Linked DNA regions of Homo sapiens: region 2 is linked to region 1. Evidence: fine-mapped expression QTL. Tissue or cell type: whole blood. Region 1 holds a variant in brackets; the other region holds the start of a gene. All regions are shown on one strand. Distances are from middle to middle.

What was found. PIP is the estimated chance that this variant, and not a neighbour inherited with it, causes the effect.
Region 2: PDE6B starts here. The variant in region 1 is fine-mapped to the expression of PDE6B in whole blood (INTERVAL, PIP above 0.99).

Annotation. Positions count from the first base shown.
Region 1 is chr4:659,320-667,319 of GRCh38, reverse strand. PDE6B (phosphodiesterase 6B) reads right to left here. Exons shown (of 22, transcript NM_000283.4): 12 at 6,707-6,853; 13 at 5,079-5,186; 14 at 4,702-4,811; 15 at 4,133-4,220; 16 at 3,450-3,550; 17 at 3,099-3,206; 18 at 2,376-2,439; 19 at 1,991-2,065; 20 at 706-789. Among named protein-coding and RNA genes, the nearest start is that of PDE6B-AS1, 8.1 kb to the right of the region's middle. RefSeq lists a silencer at 3,291-3,760 and an enhancer at 3,355-3,947. The variant TA/A (reference allele first, on the strand shown) is at 4,485.
Region 2 is chr4:619,962-629,257 of GRCh38, reverse strand. PDE6B (phosphodiesterase 6B) reads right to left here and starts at 3,685. Exons shown (of 22, transcript NM_000283.4): 1 at 3,164-3,685. The coding sequence starts at 3,631. RefSeq lists enhancers at 2,031-3,019, 3,020-4,009, 4,999-5,989.

The DNA of each region.
Region 1 (8,000 bases):
GGGGTGGGTAGGATGGGGCGGGGAGTGGGCACAGCCCACTCCGGGACAACTTCATGTGGAACCCGTGGCATCCTCCTTGGGGCGTGGATTCCATCACCAGGGAGTGTGGCCGGAGGCAGCTGGCTCTTATGGGCATCACACAGGGCCCCACGGTCAGACCCCTGCCCCATCGAGTCTCCCCCTCCATGTCCGCCTTGCGTCCTCAGAGACTCAGCTGGCATCGGACTGTGGCAGATTGGCAGGGATGTGGCTCCTTCTGCTGTTCCAAACGCCCCTGTGGGCGGGTGCACCAGCAGACAGGCCGACCCAGCCCCGCCTCGAGGGTTCACAAACATGGAACAAATGAACCCACAGAGCTGCAGCCAAGGCCCCCAAAACAGTGTGCTGGCCACGGCGGAGGGCACTGAGGGAGAACTTCTGGGGTAGGCCTGGAGGCTAGCAGAGGACATTCTGGGCTGGGAAAGGGCTCAGAGCTTCCAGGGGCACAGCAGGGTGAGGATGGGCTGGGGCACCTGTGGGGGTCCGGAAACTGATGTTCCTCCCCATTTGCCCCACTCAAGAGCGGCACGAAGCTGGCACTGGCATCCCTACTCCAGTGAGGACACCGCCGGGCCCGTGTGAGTCCACGCGACTCCAGCCCGCGCCCCCTTGCCTGCTCCCAGCCACCCTGCCCCAGTCAGCTCGGAACACCCGTGAACCACTCGCCTTGTACACGAATGTGCACACGAAGTCGATGAAGCCCACTTGCAGCTTGGGGAGCTCGGCCGCCTTGTTCCGGTCCATCATAGGCTGGTGGGAGGAACAGAGGGCGGGAGAACAGTGACCAGGGAGGCAGCTCCTGGGGCCCCGCCCAGCCCCCCGACCCCCTCACTCAGATGTGCTCATGGAGACACAGCCTGGGACGAGCCTGCCTGACAGAAACTGGCTCTCGGGAGGGGAAGCTGACACCCTCTCCCTTGGCCAGCGGCTCCACAGCTCCTAGGAACTGTGGGCAGCTTCTTCCCACAGCTGCTGTTGGCTCCAGCCCGTGGTCCCCTGAGGGCAGCCCCCTCTTGGCTCTGGGGACCCTTACTGCAGCTGGGGAGAGGCGGGGAGGGGGATGGGCTGTACACAGTGCTGAGCCGGGCTGGGCTGCACTGCCCAGACACTCGGCTGACCAGGACCTCGCTGTGCACTCGCCTGGGGCAGACACAGACGTGCTCTGGAGCTGTTTCTAGTGTCAGACCCCGAGTGCCCTGGGCTGTCCGTCCCCTCACAGCGTCCTGGTGGAGGGTGAACCATGCAGGACTCTAGAGGCCGGGCGCGGGGGATGGACCTGCTGCCTGTCCTTCCCCTGTGGGGCTTTGCTGACCAACCAATGCCCCCTTTCCTGCCGAGGCTGCACCTGGCCTAAGCCCTCTCCACTGCAGGCTCCAGAGAGCCCCTCGCCGCCCACCAGAGCGGGTGTGTGAGAAACCACAGCTCCCACCTGGTCCACGTGGGGCTGGGGCAGCCCTGCCTCTCCTGTTCCTGGCGCCTATCCTGACTCTCCCATTTGCTGGCACCTCTCCTGCTGCCAGGAGGTATCCAGACCCCGCTGCTGACCTGAGGACCCTGGCATTGTCCATCATACCACTGTGTGGGCCCGGGACGCCCCCCATGCGTTCTCTGCCCCAGCACCCTCCCCAGGGCTTTCTTGGTGCATGGCTCGCGGCCCTGCTGGGGTTCACCTGCAGAGCTGCCTGGACCCAGAGGCTCCTGGTGATGAGCGGGTGGCCCTGGTTCCTCCAGTGCCAACGACGTCACCTCTGCATAAGCATCACCCAAGCCACAGCTGTACCCAGGTCCGAGCCACCCACACGCATGTCACATGATCCCACAAAGTGAGATAAGGACCCCACGACCTCAGAACCCCCTGCCTGAGACCAAGCCAGGACCTGAGGCTCCTGAGGACCAAGAGGGGTCTCTAACACCCGTTTCAGGAGTGGAAGGTTCCAGAAGCAGCACTCACAATGGGCTGCTGATCCAAGACTGTCCTTTCCAAGTCACCTTGCTCCCAGAACTCAGCAGCCACGAGAAGTGCGACCTGGAGGCACAGGAAGGCAGCTGTCTGTGGAGCTCTGAGCCCACGCGGAAGGGCCCGGGCCCGCCCCGTGAGGCTCCGAGCCTCGGTCTTCTCCGCCCCAGACCCCCGGGGTCCCCACCACACAGGGCTCCGGTTGAGCCATGTAGACACACTGCAGTACCCCCATCCTTGCCGCCCTGGCCTGGCCCCGAGGTGGCCCTCAGAGCTCCTTGCAAACAATGGTCCGTTGCCATCCGAGGCTCCCGCCCGCCCGGCAGTCCCATGTGCTGAGAGGCACTGACTCTGGGTCTGGAGGGCCCTCTGTTCTAACCTTGCTCTGGACTTCCCAGGGCTTGGTGATGGCAGACAGGTCGCAGGCTGTCATCATCATGGCCCTGCAGACACAAACCGGGCACGAGTGCTGATGGGCGTCTCCTGAGGGCAGGTGGTTTATATGTGTTTTCTTTTTTGAGATGGAGTCTTGCTCTGTTGCCCAGGCTGGAGTGCAATGGCGCAATCTCAGCTCACTGCAACCTCCGCCTCCCGATTCTTGTGCCTCAGCCTCCCGAGTAGCTGGGATTACAGGCGCCCGCCACCACGCCCGGCTAATTTTTGTATTTTCGGTAGAGACGGGGTTTCACCATGTTGGCCAGGCTGATCTCGAACTCCTGACCTCAGGTGATCCACTCCCCTCGGCCTCCCAAGTGCTGGGTTTATGTGTATTTTCTCACTGGGTCCCTGGGACCAGCCTGGGGAGGGGCTGGTTGTGAATCACCATTTTACAGGTGAAAAAGTGGAAGGTCAAAATGAAGTAAGTTACTGCCAAGGGCTACAGACCAATGCAGGGCCTGTGTGCTCCCCAGCTCTGCACCATCTCCCTGAGAGCTGGGGGGAAATAAGGACGGCGCATTTGTTTCACAGCCCTCGACAAGCTGCCGCGACGGGCTCTTCCTGCTCCAGAGCGTCTGGGGAGGGCTGCAGGGTTAACCAGCTGGTGAGTGGGCCCGGTCCCTGCGAGGGAAGGACCCCTCGTGCCCCCTCCGCCCGCGCTCACATGACGATCTCCTTCCGGGTCGTCTCCAGGGACAGGTACTCCACCCAGCTCTTCTTGTCCTGGTAGTTCTTGGACTCATCCACGATCTTCTGAAACATCGCTCTCTTCCTGAACCCAGGGAACAAGGGAGGTGCAGGTGGGAGCAAGTGTGGAGACCCCGCCCCAAGCGCCCGTCTGCAGGGAGGCGCGGAGCCCGAGCGAGGCCCCATCCGGGGTGCGCGGGGCCGGCGGGCAGGGACGGAATCCGGGGCTGCGTCCCCCGGGCTGTGCCGCCGCTGCGCCCCCGTGTCTGCCGGGGGTCCCAGGCTACCCGCCCGCCCCGCGAGGCGCCCCCTCCCGGAAGGCGCGCACTTGAAGTACAGGGCCAGGTCCGTGGCGATGATGGCGATGTCCATCAGGTGGATCACGTGCTCGTGCTGCCGCCGGTTCAGGTTCTGGTAGATGTTCAGGGTCTGCGGAGGTTATGCCCAGCGCGTCAGGCGCCCTGCGGCCACCTCTCAGGGTGCCCGGGGACCCCGCCCCTTCCGCCTCGGCTGCCTGTGCCTCTCACGCCCCCGCCCTCGGGCCCTCGGTGGGCGGGACCCCTAATCCGCCTGCTGCTCAGGGCCCTCCTCAGGGTGCCCAGCTCTCCACCAGCGGCTCCATCGTCGGCTTGGGACGCAGATGGCCTCAGAGGTCACCACCGGGGAGCGCAGGGAGGGGTCCACTGAGTGTCCAGGTCCTTGGGGGCCGCTCAGGGCTCGGCTGCCCTTCATTCCCCCGCTGGTGGGTCCCGGGCCGCTTCCCCTTCGGCTTCCACCCCACCCCATGAGGGGCCCTTTCCAGTTGTCTTCCCCACAAGCGTTTTCCCAGGGCCTCCGATGCACCTGCCCTCAGCCTCGGCCCTCCGCCTTCTCTGCCGCCCTCCCCCAGTGCTCACACACCCAGTGCTCACCCGCTGCATCAGAACCCTGCTCCGCAGGATACGGCCCTGCCGTCCTGCGGACGCTGCGTCCCCAGCGCCCACAGCAGAAACCGAGGGTGAGTATACCAACCTCCTCCGAGAGCAGGAACTTCCCAAACTCCAGGTGGTGCCGCTCCAAAATCGAGGAGCCGTGGAGCTTAGCCAAGGGGTTCTGGGACCTGTTACACAGGTGGTGGAGGTGAGGCCCGTGGGACCTGCCCTTGGCCCACCCTGCGCTCTGCAGCCCCCCCAGATGGGCCCCACTTTCTTTTTTTTGAGACAGGGTCTGCCTCTGTCACCCACTCTGGAGTGCAGTGGTGCAATCATGGCTCAATACAGCCTTGACCTCCTGGGCTCAAGTGATCCTCCCACCTCAGCCTCCTAAGTAGCTGGGACCACAGGTGTGCGCCACCATACACAGCTTTTTTTTTTTTTTTTTTTTT[TA/A]AGTTTTTGTAGAGGAGAGCTCTTGCCATGTTGCCCAGGCTGGTCTCGAACTCCTGGGCTCAAGCAATCCCCTCGCCTTGGCCTCCCACAGTGCTGGAGTACGGGGCCTGGCCGTGGACTCCACTTTCTACATAGCCTGCTATGCGAAGCCTAATTCACGCCAAGGGCGTGGAGTTGATTTAGGGCTAATTCACATGCCCGCCCTGAGGTGCCTACTTCATCTGGTACAGGTTGTTGGTGCCGCGGTGGTCGATGTCATGGCACAGGCCGGCTGTCACCATGGCGAAGGCCTCCAGGTCCGTGTAGTAGCTCTTCAGTTTGCCGGTCTGTAGAGACAGGGCCACCTTGCTCACCGGTCCTGGCTCCAGCAGGGTGGGGAGTGGTGAGGGGTTGGGATGACCTAGGCGTCGGGTTGGAGGTTGGACCTCCGACCACCGCAGGGCTGGGGTGCGCGGTGCACGGTGTCAGAGGGCGTTGCCCTCCTCCATCCTTCTGCCCTGGGAGGACCCCCATCTCATCCCTCGGGGTGCTTGAGTGCTGCCCTTGGTACCAGGAGGGCCTGCACAACCCTGGTGATTCTGGCAGCCACGTACCATGAGCAGCGTGAACATCGTCTGGGCCACGTTGAAGCCGTGGCGCCAGTTGTGGTAGGTGATTCTCCGGTACCCTTTGCTGATGGAGAACAGGAACCGCACCAGGACCTGGGGGAGCCGAGAGGACACAGGGCTCCGGCGGCAAGCGTGTAAGTCCCGCCAGAGCGGCACCTGTGGCTGACTTCACAGTGGAAGCCCTGCTCCGTGCCATCATCCCCACACCGTCTCCTGGACTTCCCGATCTTCCCCATCCCTGCGTTTCCCACTGGCCTCTGCTGGCCTTCCTGGGTAGGGGCTGCCACATTGGCACCTATGGGGTGGAGCCAGGTAGGGCAGGAGCTGAGAACAGCCCCAGCCTTCAGGGGCCGCCCAGCCTCCATCCGACTGCCTGGCCTCAAGCTGGGAGGAGGACCCCTGGGGATGCAGCATATTTTAAGATGTTGGTTTTAGGCATGGACATTTGAATGAGCAGAATGTGTGGGCTGCAGGCTGGGGTGGGAGAACCGATGTCCGCAGGGCAAGAGAATGCTGGTCTCTCTTGCCCTGCGGACATCGCCAGGAGGCTCTTCCTGCGGCCATTGTGATTTTTAGGGTCAGAAAATTATTTGGAAATATTTTTTATTCTGCAAATATTTTCTATACATTTTTTCTTGAGTGTTTTCCCTTAGTATTTAGTAAAACTTCTTTTGAAAATGCTGGCCTGCTGCACCTGTTCTCAGAGGGGCATGAGAAAAGAGGATTCTCTTCCTAGGGCTGTGGGAAGCCCCTTGAGATGTTGGAAGCAGGGCAGGGCAGGAGAACCCAGGGAGGGCACAGAGCTGTGGACGAGGGCTGGGAAAGCCATCCCGCCTCCCCAGGGGGTCTCCGAGGAGTGCTGCTGTGGCCAAACCAGGGGGGCCACTTTGTGCTTTCTGTTTAGGTGATGGGATGCTTCTATCTCCTCAGCACCCCACACCAAATCCCCTGTTATTGCCAGATGATGTGCCTAATGATCAAATTGCTTGGAACTCCTAATAATAAAACTTTAAATCTATCCATTCACCATCCATCTGCTGTCCACCCATCCATTCACCCATTCATTGACCCATCTATTAATTCATTAATTGACCCACCTACTCATCTATCACTCATCCACCCACTTCTCCATCCATCCACCTATCCATTCACTTATCCAACCATCTAACTACCATTGGCCCACTCACCCATCCATCCATTTATCCAACCATCCAACTACCATTGGCCCACCCACCCATCCATTTATCCAACTATCCAACTACCATTGGCATCCACCCATCCATTCATTTATTCTTCCTTTGTTTCTTTCTGCTTGCCTGTTGGCCTTCCTTCCTTCCTAACCTCCCTCCTTCCTCCCTGCTTTTCACCCATCCAGCCATCCATCAATCCAGCCATCCACCCAGCCATCCAATTATTTGTTTTATGCTTACTTCCCGTGTGCATTTTACCTGTTCTGTGATGAACATGTCGGCCCTCTAAACTTCCTGTGGGATCTGGAACCCCCAATCCCATCCCCCTCACCTTCTGGGGCACCTGAGGCCCTGATCACATCCCCACCCCCATGTCCTGGGCGGCCTCAGGGACCTGACTATGCGCCCTGCGGTGTCTCCCACCTCCTGGGGGATCTGGAACTTTCGGACCACGCCCAGCTCGTAGTACATCTGGATGCCACATTTGACCAGGTCCAGTTCGGTGCACTCCAGGTCAGAGAAGTGGAATTCGTAGATGTCAAATGTGGTGGGCCCTGGCAGCTCCTCCTTCTGTGGGAGGGATTGTGGGCTGAGGGAGGTTGGCCTGCCACAGCCCCCACTTGCTTCTCATCCTTTCTTCTCTCCAGATCCCCTGCCAAGCCTCAGACACCTCAGGCATCTCTGAGGAGATGTGTCATTCCTGGCGCTCCAGCCTGTATCCCAGGCTGCTCACACGCCCCCCTGGCTCAGCCTCACTCTCCCCTCTTGTACCCTGTGGCCCAACAGTGAAGAACTTGCCCAGTTGGGTGGACAGGGTGATGTTGTTGAGACAAGAAAACACAAAGGTGTGCACATGAAAAGAAACACACACACACACGGATACAGACACACGTGACACAGGCACACCTGGATACACGGCCACTCCCATGAATACAAAGGCACCGGTGTGGACACACAGGCACACACATGAGCACCCAGGCACACCCACAGACATGCAGGCACACACGTGCAGACTCACGCATGTAGGCTCACACACACAGCCATGAGGTAACACACACAACAGTGGACTTTCAGACCCACCAGGCACATTCCCATGCTCAGTCCAAGGCCTACTCACAAGGCTCGTGGCCCCGGGAGATTCTGGCTAAATTGCATAGGCAGACACAGGGTGATGGGGACACCACATAATCCCCACATTGATCCAGCAATCGTCTCTAGGAGACACACACAAGCATGTGTCTATATATATCCATGTGCACACACATGCACACACAATACACACCCCCTGTGCACATGTGAGCACACACACATGGGTGCACACACGGGCACACACACACAAACGCCCATGTGCACACACATGCACACACATACTCGTGGGCACACATGTGCACACACATGTGTACACATGTGCACATTCATACAATGCACACACGCACACACATACCCACATGTGCACACACACACCCACATGTGCACACATGTACACACCTGTGCAGACGCCCACGTGTGCACACACACCTACATGCACACACACGTACACACTTGTGCACACACAGACACCCACATGTGCACACACATGCACACAGACACCCATGTGCGTGCACACATGCGGATGCACACACACTGGGAGTTGCAGGCACCTAGGCACTCTGAGAGCAGAGATGACATAGATGGACACAGAGTCCAAGTCAGGCCCACTAAACATCCGGTGAAAACT
Region 2 (9,296 bases), 39 kb after region 1:
GCGTCCCTGCCCGGGGTGCACAGCGGGGGATGGGGAAGGCCATGCCACCTCACAGGCCCACTCGCTCCTCCCTCTCTGCACCCGACCTGTGCTTCCTTCCTGCCAAGAGGCTTGTCTAGGAGCCATGAACACTGGGTAGCTGGGCAGGGCCTCTCACCCGGCTGGCCCATTGGCTTCTGACATGTTGGGAGGGATGGAGGGGGGCCTGGTGTCCGCCTTCTGGGACCTGTGGTTCCTGAGCCCAAGGTTTTAGGGTTCACAATCCATGCCCAGGCCTGGGCCAGGCTCCAGGAAGGTTGTGCTCAGTCCTGAGTCCCGGCAGGGCCCCCCTTGTGCAGGCCCTGGGATTCGCTGTGTCTCCCCAAGGGGCTGCCGTGACACACAACATGTGTAGTCGTGGGGTTCTGGGAGCAGACAGGGACTTGGAGCCATCAGCTGAAGCCCTGCACCTCCCAGAAGCTGGTCCCACGTGGCCTGGCACCGCCTGGGCTCCCTGTAGGCCCGAGAGTGTGAGCCCTGGGCAGCCCCTCCCTCCATGGTGGCTCCTGGGACAGACCCCTGGGGACAGGAGGGCCCACAGGCCAGGCTACTGCAGCCTTCACCCTGGGCTGGCACCCTCAGCTCCAGGAGGATGGACGCTTGCAGCTCAGGGAGGAGCGGGTTACCCGGGGCCTGCCTGCCCTGCAGACTCAGGGCCCGCTGTGCTCAGGAGCAGGCTGGTTTAGCCGCTGCAGCACCCTTGAGAGGCAGACATTAGTTCCCCAATGTAAACAGGGAGACAAGGCTCAGGAGGGCGAGACTCCGGGTGGCCCGGGCAGGAGGGTGAGACTCCGGGTGGCCCGGGTGTTGCGTGCTGGCCACCCACGCCCCGTCTGAGGGACTCTTCCACCACAGCCACGAGCTGCTCTCCTGAACTGGCCGGTGCGGCTCACGCCCTCCAAAGAGGGTGCAGTGGGCCAGACTGAGGTGTGCTCTGCCTCAGTCCCCCCTTCTGTAAACTGAGACATGAACCCAGAAGCCACTTGGCAGTGCTTAGGGTGCTGAGATGCACTTCATGAGGCTTTGCACTTCATGAGGATTTGCACTTCATGAAGATTTGCTTTTTTTGGTGGCAATTCAGACTCAAGTTTCTGTTCCCTTAGTCTGAGATAACTAAGACTCCACAGAATGGAGGGACAGACACCATGCCCAGCCCCTTGGAATGGCACCAGCTACACTGGGCAGGGGAGAGGCCTCGGAGGTCAGTCCTGGGGCAGGTGCGGCCATGGCACTGGGGGTGGGGGTGGCAGGACCTAGAACAGCCCTGGGGAACAGGCCAGGCCGAGGGACGGACCTAGGACAGCCCAGCAGTTTGAGGGGGACCCGCAGAGCAGGGAAGAGACACCATCAGCCGGGTGGGGACAAAGGGGTGAAGGGGTGGTGGCAGCGGGGGACAAACTCCTGGGGGCAAGAAAGACACAGCCCAGATTTGGGACAGGGTGGGGATGAGAAGTTGTCTTGGGGATTGTGTGCAGGAGGAAGGAAGGGAGACGGGGAGGATGGCAGAAAAGGAGGGAGGAGGGTGGCAGGAGAGTGAGGGGAGGAGGGAGGAGGGAACGGGGGGAGGGAGGAGCAGCTGGTGTCCACCCCAGGCCCCACTGCTGTGAAGTTTCCTGGCTTCCTGGTAACTCATGCTCCTGATGCACGATTGATTTGTGGGTGCCCCACTTCTTAGGAGGGAGGTGGAGATGAAGGTAACCCGGGGATTACTGAATCTAGGTCACTGCCTTGCTGCTTGCTTACTGCCATTGGGATAAGAGGATTGCCACTTCCGGCCTGGTGCGGTGGCTCACGCCTGTTATCCCAGCACTTTGGAAATCTGAGGCAGGTTGATCACCTGAGGTCAGGAGTTCGAGAACAGCCTGACCAACATGACGAAACTCTGTCTCTATTAAAAATACAAAAATTAGCCGGGTGTGGTGGCGGGCACCTCTAGTCCTAGCTACTCAGGAGGCCAAGGCAGGAGAATCGCTTGAACGTGGGAGACGGAGGTTGCAGTGAGCTGACATCATGCCACTGTACTCCAGCCTGGTGACAGAGCAAGACTCTGTCTCAAAAAAAAAAAAAACCCACAAACGAAAACAAACCAGGATTGCCACTCCCCAGCTGCCTGGGAAGGAGGGACCACACCTGCCCCTGGGCTGGCAGCCTGGTGGGTAATTCCCAAGGCTCATCCAGCAAGAGCGGAGGCTGCCTGGGCCTCTTGCAGCCTCCTTAGCTGTGGGGACAGAAAAGGGGAGAGGAAGCTGGGACGGGTGCAGGACAGGGAGAAGGGGCTTCCCCCCTCCCCTTCTTCCTCAGAGCCCCCTTGCCGGGCAGCTCCTCAGGGCCTTTCCAGGTCTCTGCTGGCCGCTGCCCTCACCCAGTCTGGCAGGCACCTCACACCCCTCTTGTTCTCCAGTCCCGCCAGGACCGCCTCTGTCCTCGGGAAGCGTCTGCCCTAGCCCAGGCTTTGCATGAACAGGCCCTGCCCTTCCCTCCTTCAGTGACTCCAGTGAGCCTGTCTCGATTCTGTCTCTTGTCCCTCCCCAGTCCCACCCTGGACCCCTGTGCTCAGTGGCTACCAGGTTTGTTCTCCCCTGGCGGCTGGCGTGGGCTCCCATGGGATAAAGCTGCTTCTGCCACAGTGGAAGTTTGGGGTTCCCCTGGCTCTCCCTCCCTGTGGGCGTCTGCACCACCTTCGACTGTGACCTCTTCTTCCCAAATCCCAAGGCAGGGCCTCCCTCCCAGCCCAGAGAGCCCTGAAGCCCCCATCTGGTCAGTCTTCCTGGAAGCCAGGGGTCCTCACAGGGACTACATGGTCCCCACCATGGGATGTGGATGCAGAATCAGGGGCACCCCGGTTTGAGCCTGAGTCTGCTTCAGCCGAGGCTCCTAGACTCAGGTCTAACCAACTCAGTGGCCATGCGATGTCAGCTTGAGCCAGAAGCCGAGTCGGAGAGGCAGGCGGCCAGGGCACAGTGCCGGGAGGGGGCTCTAGGTACTTGCTCCTCAGCACAGAACTAGCCTGTGCCCTGACAAGAGGCCTCCCTGGAGGCCTGAGGATCCGAGCTGACCCTTAGACACCTGGGACAGGTGCAAGAGATGCACACAGCCGCCTCCCTGAGGCTCCGCACAGACCCACCTCGGCCACGTCCTCGACGTTCACCATCTTTTTGGTCTGAGCCACGTGGCCCACGACCCCGATGTCCAGTGGGAAGACGATCTCGGAGTCGGGGGGCACCAGGCAGTCCTCCAGGACGCTGTCCGGCTGCACGCTGAAAAGCCTGGTGGCCAGCTCGGCCACGCCGTTGCGCTGGCGGTACATGAAGAGGCTGCAGCGGTCGGCCTGCAGGAGGGTGCAGAGGCGCCGCAGGACCTTGAAGACCACGCGCTCCATGTTGATGCTCTCCTGCATATCCTGCACCAGCTCCAGCAGCGCCGTGCTCTCCTCCACCTGGCAGAGGTCCCGGAGGCTGTCGCAGTCCGGCGGGCACCCGTCCTCGCAGGCCGCGGCCACATTCTCAGGGCTCAGTTTCTTCCCAAAGTACTGGCGGGCAAAATCGGGGTTCTGGTCCAGAAAGCTCCGGGCCTGCTCCTCACTGAGGCTCATGGTGGCTGCCTGTCCCTGGAGACGCTGCTGCTCCAGGCACGCATGGACTCCCAGGAAACCCTGTCATCAGCAAAGTCTTTCTTAGTGAGATTAGGAACCCCGGGGGCGGGTCAGCTGACTCACTCCTACAAATGGGGGCCTGCGCTCCCTCTCCTCAGACCCTGGGACTTCCCACCTTCCAGGAAAACCAGACCCTGTGGAATGAAGGCTGGGAGTAACTGTTGGGGGATCTCCTGCCTGTTGCAGGCGTCACGGGTGGCTGGGCACAGGCATTTGGCTTCTAGCGGACCAGGCCCTGAGAACTAATCCCCTGAGGAGGTTATCCCACACACAGCATGACGCTTTCTGCTGGTGGAGCTGCCTGAGGGTTTGGGTTGGTCCCACAGGTGGCCCCAGGCCCTCCTGGGAGCCCAGACCTGGGCTCGGGTGTGCTGGGGAGGTGGTGGGGCACTGGCCCTGCCTCCAGGAGATGCAGTTCACCCCTGTGCAGGGAGAGGGGGCTGGGTAATCACACCAGGACCCAAATGCCCAGAGGCCAGCAAGGGGACCCTGGATGTGGAGGTGGGACCACATCCACCTTCCCCCACACTCTGAGGGATGCAGAGTTGCTAGTCAGCCTTTACCTGCTGTCAGGCCCCGGCTGGGACAAGCTTCGGGGTGACGCCGCTCTGAGGCCACATGGCTTTCAGTGGAAAAAGGACCTGAATGTTGGGGGGCTGCCTGGCAACAAAGCCCGACCTCTCCTCTCCGCTGTCACCTCAGCAAGCCTTGCCTGCTCCCATAGGCCTCTCGGCTCCTGGGCCAGCTCCCTGCAGGCCAGCAGGGGTGATGTGGCCAGAAGCACCTTGGCTGGGTCTGGCATGGGCGCCGGCCTGGCGGGCGGGTGGCAGTGTTCCTGATTTCCCTGAATATAAAAACGCTGATTGTCGCTTTCCAGGCACCTTTGTGCTGCCAGATCCTGGGCTTAAGGTTTCTTCCCATCTTTTCCAGTTTATCTGTCCATGTTGTCACCATACTTTTAACCAGGATGCAAGGTTTTCATGTGGTTCTTTTACTGCACTCAGCTGGTAGACGTGTGTGCACGCGTGCATGAGTGTGCACATACGTGTGTGCACGGAGTGTGAGTGTGCGCACGTGTAGGTGTGTGTGTTCGTGTGAGCACGTGTGCATGACAGCCAGGTGCCCTCAGGAGCGCAGAGTTCTCTCAGCACGAGGCCAGGCCCCGGGGAAGCTTCTGCGAGGGCCCTGGGCTGCACCGCTGCAGCTGCCTGTCTCGGAGGCTGCTCTGAGGCAGCATCTGCGCCGTCCACAGTGGGCCCAGCTGGGTGTGCGACGTGTGCCCTTGTGCCATGATGTTCCTGCCTCCACTTAGTCACAAAGTCACTTCCTTTCAAGGATCTGCTGAGAGGCTTCCCCTTTTTCCTAAAAATAGTGAATTCTCACTGGGGACGGGGGAGTGGGGATGTGGGTGGGGGGAGGGGTTGTGGGGCCGCTGCAGTGCTTGGGTTTGGGGCCGGGGGGAGGGTCGCCTGCTTTGCATTCAGTCCCAGAACAGCCTCCAGAGCCTGCCGGTTGCATTTCCCAACTCCCAGGGATGAGCTCACATTGCGCCTGGATGTGAGGATGGCGGCCGGAAACCAGCCTTCAGGTCCTCGGTTGCCCCACCCTGAGGTCTATGCACACGCAGCCCCTCCCCACCTCCTTTTTCCTCTCCGGGCTCTTTCCCGTCCCCCAGTTCCTCACAACCCCCTTCTGGACACCCCCACTTTGCCCCTTGCTCCCCTCCGTCAGCGAGGGGCCTGCCAACCTCCCTCCCACAGGGGCCTCCGTGCCCGCAGAACTGAGACACTCACCTGCGTGTGAAATGAGCTAAGCGCATCTTGAGTGGGACCGCAGAGCTGGAGAGGCCTTGCTGGGGGCATGAGGGCCCTGGGGTGGGGCTGGGGGTGGCAGCTGACCTCAGGCTCTGCCTTGCCACCTGCCCAAGGGAGCGTGGAGTGGCTGGGCTCAGTGTGGAGAGCAGGTGGGACAGGGAAGGGGTGCTGGGCTGAGGATTTGTGGTGCTAGCGGGAGTGAGGGTTGGCTGGGAGGGCTCAGTGTGGAGAGTGGGTGGGACGGGGAAGGGGTGCTGGACTGAAGATTTGGGGCGCTAGCGGGAGTGAGGGTTGGCTGGGAGGAGCCCACAGTCTGCGGCCATAGTCCACTCACCCTAACACGACTGTGACAGCAGCTTCCACCCGCAGCACCGCGTTCCTCACCTGTGGCTTTGTCCTGCCCCAGGAGCCCGTCGTGATTGTAGGTGAGTAGGTTCAGGGCGGCAAGGAGTCCACAGCCTCTGGGGAACCCTGAGCCATGACCATGGGAGTTGTGTGTGAACACCGCAGCTCCCTTACCTGCAGGGGCCCAGAGGTAACTGCTCCATGGCACACTATTGGTTCTATCTTTTCCCCATCTCACTTCCCTACATACCTACTGATGATGCTGGGGGACCCTGATTGGGTTGGACTTGACACAGTCAAAAAGACACACCTGTGAGGCACACCTGTGAGACACACCTGTGAGACACAGCTGTGAGACGCACCTGTAAGGCTTACCTGTGAGATGCACCTGTGACATGCACCTGTGAGATGCACCTGTGAGACACACCTGTGAGACACACCTGTGAGACGCACCTGTGAGACGCACCTGTGAGGCTCACCTGTGACATGCACCTGAGACACACCTGTGAGACGCACCTGTGAGACACACGTGAGACGCACCTGTGAGACACACATGTGAGACGCACCTGTGACATGCACCTGTGAGACACACCTGTGACATGCACCTGAGACGCACCTGTGAGAAACACGTGAGATGCACCTGTGAGACACACATGTGAGACGCACCTGTGACATGCACCTGTGAGACACACCTGTGACATGCACCTGTGAGATGCACCTGTGAGACACACGTGAGACGCACCTGAGACGCACCTGTGAGACACACGTGAGACACACGTGAGACGCACCTATGAGGCACACCTGTGAGACATAGCTGTGAGACGCACCTGTGAGATGCACCTGTGAGATGCACATGTGAGATGCACCTGTGAGGTGCACCTGTGAGACGCACCTGTGAGAAGCACCTGTGAGATGCAAGGACTCACTGGGCGGCTTCTCCACAGATGCACCTGGCGAGTGTCTGAGGAGATATGGGAGTGCTCTGTCCCTTGGCTCCTACTAACTTTGCCTCATCATAATGTAGAATTTAAAATTAGCAAGCACTTCCTGGCAGTCACTTAGAACAAGGTGTTTGTCATCAAATAGCTTTTACATGAAGAGAATCCTAGTTTCTTGTACTAAACTGTGGAAAAGATGCAATTGTACAAGGAACAATTGGCCCTGATGTTGAAATGGACCGGTCATGAGGAATGGCAAGAGGTGAAAGTGGAGAGAAGATTCGAGCTCAGAATCAGAAATCTCATGAAATTTGCAAGCAGAGAAACAGTCAGCTCCGTGGGGAGCTGGTGCTCTTCCAGACCATTTCCCTGGAATGAGGACAAGGAAGGGTGAGGAGGTGGGGCTCCTCCTGAGCTGGTGTGGGAATTCCACCCAGGACAGGACAGGGGTCTTTGTGGGTGGGGGCGGCCGCGGCCCTCGGCCTGGGCTCTGTCCTCTGCCCATGCTCAGCTGCTGTCTGACCACAGGCGAGGCTCTCGGCTTCTTCAGGTCCCATTTTCTGGTTTGTTCTCGCCAAGAAGAATCTTGTGGCATTGTTTTTCCAGTGGGAAGTGATGCTGTTGAGTGTGTGGCAGGTGCTAGTGCCCCCGATGAAGACGGGTGCAGACGACACGCCACAGAGGACCACGGTCCCCCCTGGCAAAGGTTGGGGGAGGGTCCACAGGAGCTGGGCAGGGGGGTGTCTGGAAGGGGGTCCTCACCGTGTGGTACCTGTGGCTCCTGTCGGGTAGTCTCAGGCTCCCTCCAGATGTGAGGGCGGCACCCAGTCCTGCTCAGATCAGAATACAGATGGGCTTTTGTCCTCGAGCCGAGGACGTTTCTGTGTGTAATGAGGAGATGCGGAGCAGGAGGCAGAGCCTGTGTTCCTCTGTTGGTTGGGGATGGTTGGTGCCTAGCAGGATGATCCCACTCCCACCAGTGGCACGACCACCACCTGCTCCATGGTGCTTATTTTTGCTTTTTCATAAAGAGGCCTCAGGGCTCCTCTGTCTCCACTCAACAGGAGCTCTTCATCCATTCACCTCCTTGTAGCCCTGGAAGTGCCATGTTGAAACTCCGGACACCCGCCCCTCATCCATAAAAGACTTGGTCCCTGTTCTCACAAGGCCTATAATCTAACGAGGGCAACAGAAGTTTATTTTAAAAATCCCACAAATGCATGGAAAACACTCACTGTGCCCAGGGCCAAGGCTGATGGAGATGCCAGGTGTCCGTGGTTTGGGAAGCCACATGGAGGGGACGATGGCACAGAGAGCAGGGGGAACCGGTGTGATGCGAAGCAGCCCTGGCCGGTGGGGGATCCAGTCCGTCTCACTTTAGGGTGGGACAGGTTGAGGTGCAGCTTGGAGGGGGCGCAGGCACCACCTCCTCGCAGCGGGCGCCCCTCACATGTGTGGGTGCCCTGCATGTGGGTCACACCAGCGTGGGGAGAGACTCCTGCTGCCGTTGAGTGGAGGGGCTTAAATCTCAGCTCCAGATGGATACTTCTCAGCGGGCAGAAACCATCGCTCATCCTTCAGGACGCGTCTGACACGGGGCATCAGAACGCGTTTTGCTTTGTGTGTCTGAGGGTCTTTGTGCGTCTGTGGGTCTTTGTGCATCTGTGGATCTCAGTTTCTCAATCTCTTGGTGCATCTTGGGTCTCGGTCTCAGTGCTGGACGCAGGGAGCATTCTGCCCTTGTTTATGGGGTTCTTGGTTGATGAGGAGACAGAAAGTGAGCTCATGTCTCCATCGCGATGTCTCTGGGCTACATTCTGCTGAGTCTTTCCCTCGTTCTGTCATTTCACCTCTTTTCTGCAAACGTTTTTTTCAATCATGTAAATGCTTCTTTTCTAGTGGCCGGGACTTTCTGAGGTCTCCATCACCAACCCAGGTTCCTCGGGGCTCTGCACTTGACCTGGTCAGACGGGCCTTGTCCTGGTGCAGCTTTCAGGGGGCTCCCAGGTGGCCACTTTTGCTCAGCTCTTGGGGTTTTGTGCAGTGCGTGCGAAGCTTAGTCCTCAGCCAAAGCCCCATGTGGCCCTGTGCAGATCGTTGGAGCCTGTCGTGTGCACAGATTCCTCCTCGGCAGCAATCTTCCCTGCAAACTGCGGCCACCGCTGCCTCCCCAGGGCCAATCTGTCTTCCAAGCTTCGTAAGATCTCAAAACAGTAATTCATTTTTGTCTCCCAGTTTTCCATAACAACACATAAATAATTGCTATCATAAATTAGTATAGCCTCATGTAAGGTAATCCCTAATGTGTCTACACAGTGCTCTGCAGATTTTCAAAATAATGAAGATGTTTTCATGTGAATGGGGTGCCCTTGTGTTGTGCACAACCTGAGCGACTGTGCACCTTAGCCCCGTAGTATCCCAGAGAGGCTTTGACTTCCCATGTTGGGTGGATCCTGAAACTCTGAAGCAAGCATCTCATGATTAGGAGAACTAATGTAATTTTGCAGA